2 linked regions of the Homo sapiens genome follow. The protein of the gene in region 1 interacts with the protein of each later gene in a pairwise test. Each region holds a gene or a part of one and is shown on either strand. Other genes may lie near its edges.

Region 1 (3,486 bases):
TAACCGTTTGCTGGCCAGTCTCAGCCATTCTAGGAGTGAAGCAAAGGAGTCCAGTCCTGCTTGGAGAACCCCGTCCTCGGAGTGCTATCATGGGCAGTCACTGGGAAAGCCTCTGGTCCTTCAGGCTGCCCTCCATGGACAGTCTTCCATTGGGAATGGGAAAAGTCAGCCTAACTCCAAGTTTGCCAAATCCAATGGCCTGGAGGGCAGCTGGTCTGGGAATGTCACCCAAAAAGACAGCTCGAGTGAGATGTTCTGTGACCAGGAGCCTGTGTTCAGCCCCCACTTGGTCAGTCAGGGCAGCTTTAGAAAATCCACTGTAGAACACTTTAGTAGGTCCTTTAAAGAGACCACCAATAGGTGGGTGAAGAACACAGAGGACCTCCAGTGCTATGTGAAGCCAACCAAGAATATGAGCCCCAAGGAGCAGTTCTGGGGTAGACAGGTTCTCAGGCGGTCTGCAGGGAGAGCTCCATATCAGGAAAATGATGGCTATTGCCCAGATTTGGAGCTGAGTGATTCAGAGGCAGAAAGTGATGGGAATAAAGAAAAAGTCAGGGTAAGGAAAGATAGCTCAGACAGGGAAAATCCTCCCCATGACTCTAGACGGGATTGCCATGGTAAAAGCAAGACACATCCCCTTTCCCACAGTTCAATGCAAAGGTGATTAGAAACTTCCAAGGATGACCCAACCTTTGCCTTTGCCCCATATATTGGGGAAAACCCATACACCAAAAGGATTTTAGCATATGTTAAGAGGAATTGCAGTGAAAAGGATAACATTTTTCCATAGTAAATTGTCTTGCAGTTTTTGAAAATGTTTCAAGTCTAGTTTTTACAAGCACATTACAGTAATTGCAGGTTGTCCAGAGGTTGGTTTGTCAGAGGCTATTGGGAACAGCTGGGCCCAGGGTATTTGCTCAGTAAATATTTTGGGGCAGCTTTCCGGTTATATAACACATTGACAAGTATATGTATTAAGAGTCCTTGCATTGTTAACTGATTTGCAAGAGACCATGATTATCAGACACTAAAACTACTTATCTTTTGAAGCTACAGCATGTGACTCCCCAGAGCTCCTGTCTGTAGGAAGTTTCTAATTCCACTGGTATCTATAAACCCTTTTCAGGGGAGAGACCAGGAGACCACCATCTTAGATACTGTCAAACTCACTACTGTCTTCCTTTGTTCTGCACAAGGTTGAGTTTCTTTCACAGTATCTTAACTTACTGAGTCAATACTCCTCATGCTTATCAGTGTCCAGTGCCTGTTCCTAAACTTGCTTGTTGGGGACACACTCATAACTATTTCACCTGACTGACAAGCATAAAAGGCTAACTTGTGGATAGTGTTTACAAAAGTACAAAAGTACTACTTCCAAGGAAAATGCTCTGATTCTCTGTTTAGGCATTTGTGAAGGATTCCAGAGCCTTTCCCAAAGTGAGACCATTTCTGGGGTATTTGTACCAGGTCAGGGTTTTTGTGTTGTTTTCAAATAAGTTTGACTAAAATAAGTTTGGCTGACAGTTTTTGTATACCTGCTTTAATGTTTATAAAATTTTTATTGAGGTATAATTAAAATATAGTAAAATGCACAGAGGTTAAGTATTCTTACCTGCTTTAATTTTGAAACAGATTTTTATTGTCAAACAGAATTTGAAAGCATGTGTTTAACACATGGATATAATTTAGCTTTGTGTCACCTTTGAATCTGAGGCAGTTTCCCAAACAAAAAGGCTGGAGCCATTTTTCAGAAGTTGCTTATACCCTGTTCCCAAACTATCAGCCTTGATTAATTTCTAGTAGGAAGAGAATAATTACATTTGCGGGGGGGGGGGTGGATAAAAACATGTCTGCTTCTCATTTAAATAAGAGAGAAATGATGCCGTTTTTTAAATGTGAAGCAGACTATAATTCTCAGCTCTCTTTTCTTCTTAGCCTTAAATTAATATTCTCTTTCTTCTAGTTTTGGAAAGTGTAGTGGGAATATTCAGACAAAAGAGGCCATTTTCCATTTTTAAAGCTTCTTACTGGTGAAACAGCCCAGTTGTAGTAGGTGCCAGTCAGTCAAGGCAGGGGCCCTCTCTCCGTCAATATGGAAAACTCAGCAGTTTTCCTCTCCCCCAGTTGTGTTCTTGTAACGTTGTTAATGGGTTCCTTTGCTTTTTGCTTTCTCCTTTTCTGAAAATGTATGTGTTTTGCCTCTCTTTTGGCTACATCTTCAAAATATTTCTTTTGTGCCTATGTACATGTGTAAACATGCCATAGCATGTGTGGTAGGTGTCCTGTATTTTGTTTGGGAAAAAAACTATCAAAATGAGGAAGAGAATTTCCCCTATTTATGCACTAGGTTTCTGTGCTTTTTCTTTGAGTTCTCTGGAGTAGATATTAATTTGATACCTTCATGGTAATGAAATTATGATGGAGCTGTGTTATAAATTCCTTATGTCAGAGGCCAGTGCGGTAGCCTTTGTCCCTTCATGCCTTTCAATTCTGAGTGGGAGGAAAAGCAAACATCAAAACAGTGCTTCAGCCAAATTCCATATGTAATGCCATTGGGAGAGTATTGACTAAAATATCATTCGTCAGGGAAATATAGTTGTAATATTTTTACAGGATATTCCTAGGTAAATGAAGGAGCCTTCAGTTGTAAATTTCAATTACCCCAAAATGTATTTGCTACATTTTGTTGTTTGAAGTATTACCTCTTAACCTTCTTTGTTAATTTTTTTCATTTTGTCTTATATAGTCCAGTTTTCCAAGATAAGCTCAGTCCTTTTTCAAATGTCCCCTTTTTACCAATACTTTTTCATTAAATTATGAAAACTGCTACCTACTGTCAGTGTGTTTTTTATTTTGGCATATTGGTTACACATGTTCCTTTTATATTTAAAAAATTATATTCACTGAACAAAACAGATAGTGTGGGGAGAGGGAGGAGGAAGAGGAGGAATTGAATGTTTAGAAGCACACATTCAACATTCGAGTCAATACCGGGGACCCAGGAGAACTCTGGATACTTGAACTTTACCCAGAAATCATGATTTTATCAGACTGTTAAGATAAAGGCCTTAGGATCATCATAAAACATCACCAGAGAGATAGATCCTATCTAAAGTGACAAGATTGAAAAGGCTTCAGTCAGGCATCTCTATTTGGAGTCTTGTGAGTATGTTGATGTCATGGGGTTATGTGGTGTCAAGGGGGGCTTTTAGGCATTATAAACATTTTCATGATTGAAAAATGTACTTGCCAAAGGTCATTGGGTAAATCAGTAGTGAAGATAGGTAAAAGGTGAAGTTGGTTCTCTCTCTCTCTCTCTCTCTTTCTCTCTCTCTCTGCTAGAGAACTGAAACTACAGGTATACCCTGTTATAGCCAACAAAAGCTATTGAGTTTATACTAATGTGTACATTTCCAATGGGAGATGAATCTTTGTCCTTGTGTTGAAGCAACTTTAAATTCAGAGGATAAGCCAAAGAATGCA
Region 2 (3,825 bases), on another chromosome or scaffold:
CAGATGTTCTAACTTTTGAACAAATGAGCGTGGTCAGTAATGTACAATAACTCTTGAGTCTGTTACTTTGGCCTAGCTAAGCCCATCTGGCCCTCGGGCATCCTGCAAGATGACAGACAGAAGAGCAAGGGCACTATCAGAAATGGAACAGGCTGCCCCCTACTCCTCCCAGCCTCTACCAGTACACAGAGACAGACTGGAGATAGAGCATTCGCAGCCAGTTGGCATCTTGGTTCTTTTGTCTTCTGAAAATAAAAATAAGTGCTTGTCTTGTCTTTGGGGGTCAAAGAGAACCGCACTAATTTATTTCCTCGAGGGGGCTTTTCTGGAGGAGAGGATCCTCAGTCCTGTGCCAAGGTTTCACGCTGTTTGGCCACACGCCAGGCCTTTCTTCTGGATCTGGTCTGCACGTCCAGAGATGATGGAGGAATTGCATCAGCATCATATGCACAGTGAAAGGGTGGCTCTTGTCCAGAGAGGCCCATTCCGGGCCTGGCTACATGGCCTCAGGGCCTGGCGGCAGTTTGAAGAGTCTGGCTGCAGATAGGAGCTTTCTTATGTGTCTCTCCTCTGTGATGCCGGCCTCCTGAAGGCAAGTGTGAGACAGAGAAGGCACTTGGCTCAGTGTGCTGAAGCCCGCGGTGGAGAGGGTGCCGGCGTACATGGGCAGACCGATGGAAATGAGCCAATCTGACACAGACGAAATGCACCCAGGAGAGACGGGCTTTCGGCAGATTTCCGTGAGTCCACCACTTGGAATCTGGATAAATTAAGAAAGAATATGATAGAAACGCTCCATGTGTCATCGAGGACTACTTCGCGTATGTCTAAAAGGAACAGCACTGAAATACTGCATTGCTAGACTATTATCAGAAAGCGACAATGCAATGAGTGTCAGAGATCAAGACTAGCAGGAAAAATTCTTCTCTAAGATGAAACAAATCTTTAAGGAAGAGTTCCACAAGGTTCTCGAAGGTGTTGGAATGAGGTCAAATCCCATTTATGTGTCCGAGTCTTCAAACTATAAGCATTTACATATTCTGCTATTTTGTTTCACTGTGGATATGCTCTTGACAAAGAGCCCTAAGGTAGTCTGAAGGGACAAATCTGGGTGATCGTGTGAAATGTAGCATTCAGTGGGTAGGGTTTTTATAAAGGAGACTTTCCACTGTATTTTGAATCTATGTTAACAACCAGAAAATTACATGTTTAGTCAATACAAGTTATGAAGAATTTAAAATACAATAATATCAAGGGTTGGCTGGAACAGGGAAGTGGACATTTAACCTTGACTACTGGGTATATAAAGGGCCTGCACCTTTCAGAAAGGTGATTTGCTAACGAGTATGAAAATCTTTGGGATTTTATACAATTTTGATGAAGCAAACCATCTTCCAGGAATATCTACTCAGAAATTAACCTTTAAAGTCTACAAAGATTTATTAACAAGGATGTTCTTCATTACATTATTTAAAATAAAAGGTTAGAAAAATCTAAATGTTTTAACTATGAGACTCACTACTAGAGTACACTGACCTACTAGAATACTTTGAAATACAATAGCCACCCCCCTGCTTATCCATGGTTTTGCTTTCTACAGCCTGAAAATATTAAATGGGAATTTCCAGAAATAAACAATTCATAAGTCTTATATTGCATGCCATTCTGAGTAGTCTGAAGAAATCTCACACCACCCAGCTCTGTCCCACCTGACAATCATCCCTTTGTCTAACAAATCCACGCTGCCTACACCACCAGCCCCGCAGTCACTTAGTAGCCCGTAGTCATCAGATCAACTGTTGCGGTAATGCAGTACTTGCATTCAAGTCACTCTTATTTGACCTTACAATGGCCCCCAAGTGCAAGAGTAACGATGCTGGCCATTCGCACGTGGCAAAGAGAAGCCCTTAAGTGCTTCCTTTAAGTAAAAAGGTGAGAGTTCTTGACTTAATAAGAAAAGAAAAAAAATTGTATGCTGAGGTTCCTAAGACCTACAGTGAAAACGAATCTTCTATCCATGAAATTGTGAAGGAAAAAGAAATTTGTGTATAATATATACAGGGTTTGGTACTCAGCAAGCTTTCAAGAGATCCACTTGGAGGTCTTGGACCATAATCCCTCATGGATAGGGGGAGACTACTGTATTGATGATATCAATTTTTTTTTTTTTAAGTAACAGGGAAACAGATTCATGATCTGATAATAGCCAACAATCAGGTTTCGGTACTATACATTTACGCATACATTACGCATGTGCAGAGAAATGACTAGACAGAGTTTTAATGGACAAGTAAAAATTGTGTGTATTTATGGTGTAAAACGTGGTGTGTTGATAAATGTACACATTGTGGAATGGCTAAATCAAGCTATTTGACATATGCATTACCTCATATACTATATTTTGTGGTGAGAACACTTAAGATCTGCTGTCCTAGCAATTTTCAAGTATACATTGTTATTAACTGTAGTCACCATGTTGAACAATAGATCTTTGGAAGTTATGCTTCTAACTGAAACTGTGTCATTCAGACGGATTTTATTTTATTTCTTAAGAGATGGGGTCTCACTATGTTGCCCAGGCCGGCATCAAAATTCTGGGCTCAAGCAATCCTCCTGCTTCTGCCTCCCAAGTAACTAGGATTACAGGTGTGCACTATCACGCCCAGCACTAGACGGATCTTTAAAAAGTTTTTCACAGTGTTGGGATTACGGATAATTTTCATTTTTTTTTTCTTTCTGAAAGTGTATTTTTAAACATTTCTAGGCTGACCACATATTACTTTCTCCCCAGCTGTCTCCTTTCCATAGCTACGCAAGCCCTTGCCTACTTGGCAGTTGTTAGTATGGTCATCACTAAGCGTGATCACTAAATGTGCCTCAGGAAGCTGGAGAACTGTGGGCTGCTCACCGCCATGCGGTGCTGCTTCCGAAGCTGCTTCACCCGGATCTGGTCCATGTTGGCGGCGACGTCCCGCTCGGGCTGATCCAAGTCCTCTGCGTATCTCTGCACCAGGGCTTCAGGAATCCCACAGCGGCCATGCTGCCAGGGAGAACAGGAATATGACATCAAGAGTCATAAGGATTTTGTTTTTCTTTCCCTAAGATACACCACATATAACGTAGGGTCTCACTGTCACTTAGACTGGAGTGCAGTGGTGTGATCATGGCTCACTGCAGCCTCAAACTCCTGGGCTCAAGCGATCTTCTCGCCTTGGCCTCCCAAAGTGTTGGGATTCCAGGCGTAAGCCACCACACCCAACCCAAAAGTTTGAATTTGAAATGAATATATTTTCTTTATTGGTCAGGATGAATGCTTTAGAGGGAATACTTTTACATCTTTATCTTAAAGTACTGATGAGCTCTAGGAAAATGTTCTGAAGCATAGTTAAGGCAGAACACAATTATTCCACATTTTTCAGGACAATGCCTTCGCCTCAATCAGATCATTTTGCAAAATACAACTCCTCTAATGTTACTGAAGAGAGTCTTCTAAACTGCAGGAGAGAAGGGCTAACTTCTGCTTTACAGATATTCAACTGTTTGCACTTTATCTGCTACAAGTGATACCACCAGCTCACTAGGCCAGCATTTACTGTATGGTCTTTCTCACTACCTTTCATTTAAAGACATTCACTCAGGAAATATCAAGGAGGGTCAGAGAGGTGGAGGAGGATCTGATTCTAAGGCATTCATTGTCATGAGAATTTTATAATAAAGGACTCTCAGGAATGCATCCTAATAGGACCTGTATTTCCAGGAGTAAAGTACTGCTGTATCTGTTAGCATTGCTTTGTCTTTGGAGTCACTTGGTATTGGTAGATCTCA

Evidence for each region.
Region 2: the proteins of JADE3 (region 1) and SASH1 interact in a two-hybrid assay, tested with the Homo sapiens proteins (one large-scale study listed by BioGRID).

Annotation. Positions count from the first base shown.
Region 1 is NC_000023.11:47,058,411-47,061,896, forward strand, and holds the end of JADE3 (protein Jade-3), read left to right. Parts: coding exon 1-667; 3' UTR 668-2,832; downstream 2,833-3,486. UniProt on the Homo sapiens protein: Scaffold subunit of some HBO1 complexes, which have a histone H4 acetyltransferase activity.
Region 2 is NC_000006.12:148,545,230-148,549,054, reverse strand, and holds part of SASH1 (SAM and SH3 domain-containing protein 1), read right to left. Parts: intron 3,041-3,825; coding exon 2,909-3,040; intron 761-2,908; coding exon 497-760; 3' UTR 1-496. UniProt on the Homo sapiens protein: Is a positive regulator of NF-kappa-B signaling downstream of TLR4 activation. It acts as a scaffold molecule to assemble a molecular complex that includes TRAF6, MAP3K7, CHUK and IKBKB, thereby facilitating NF-kappa-B signaling activation.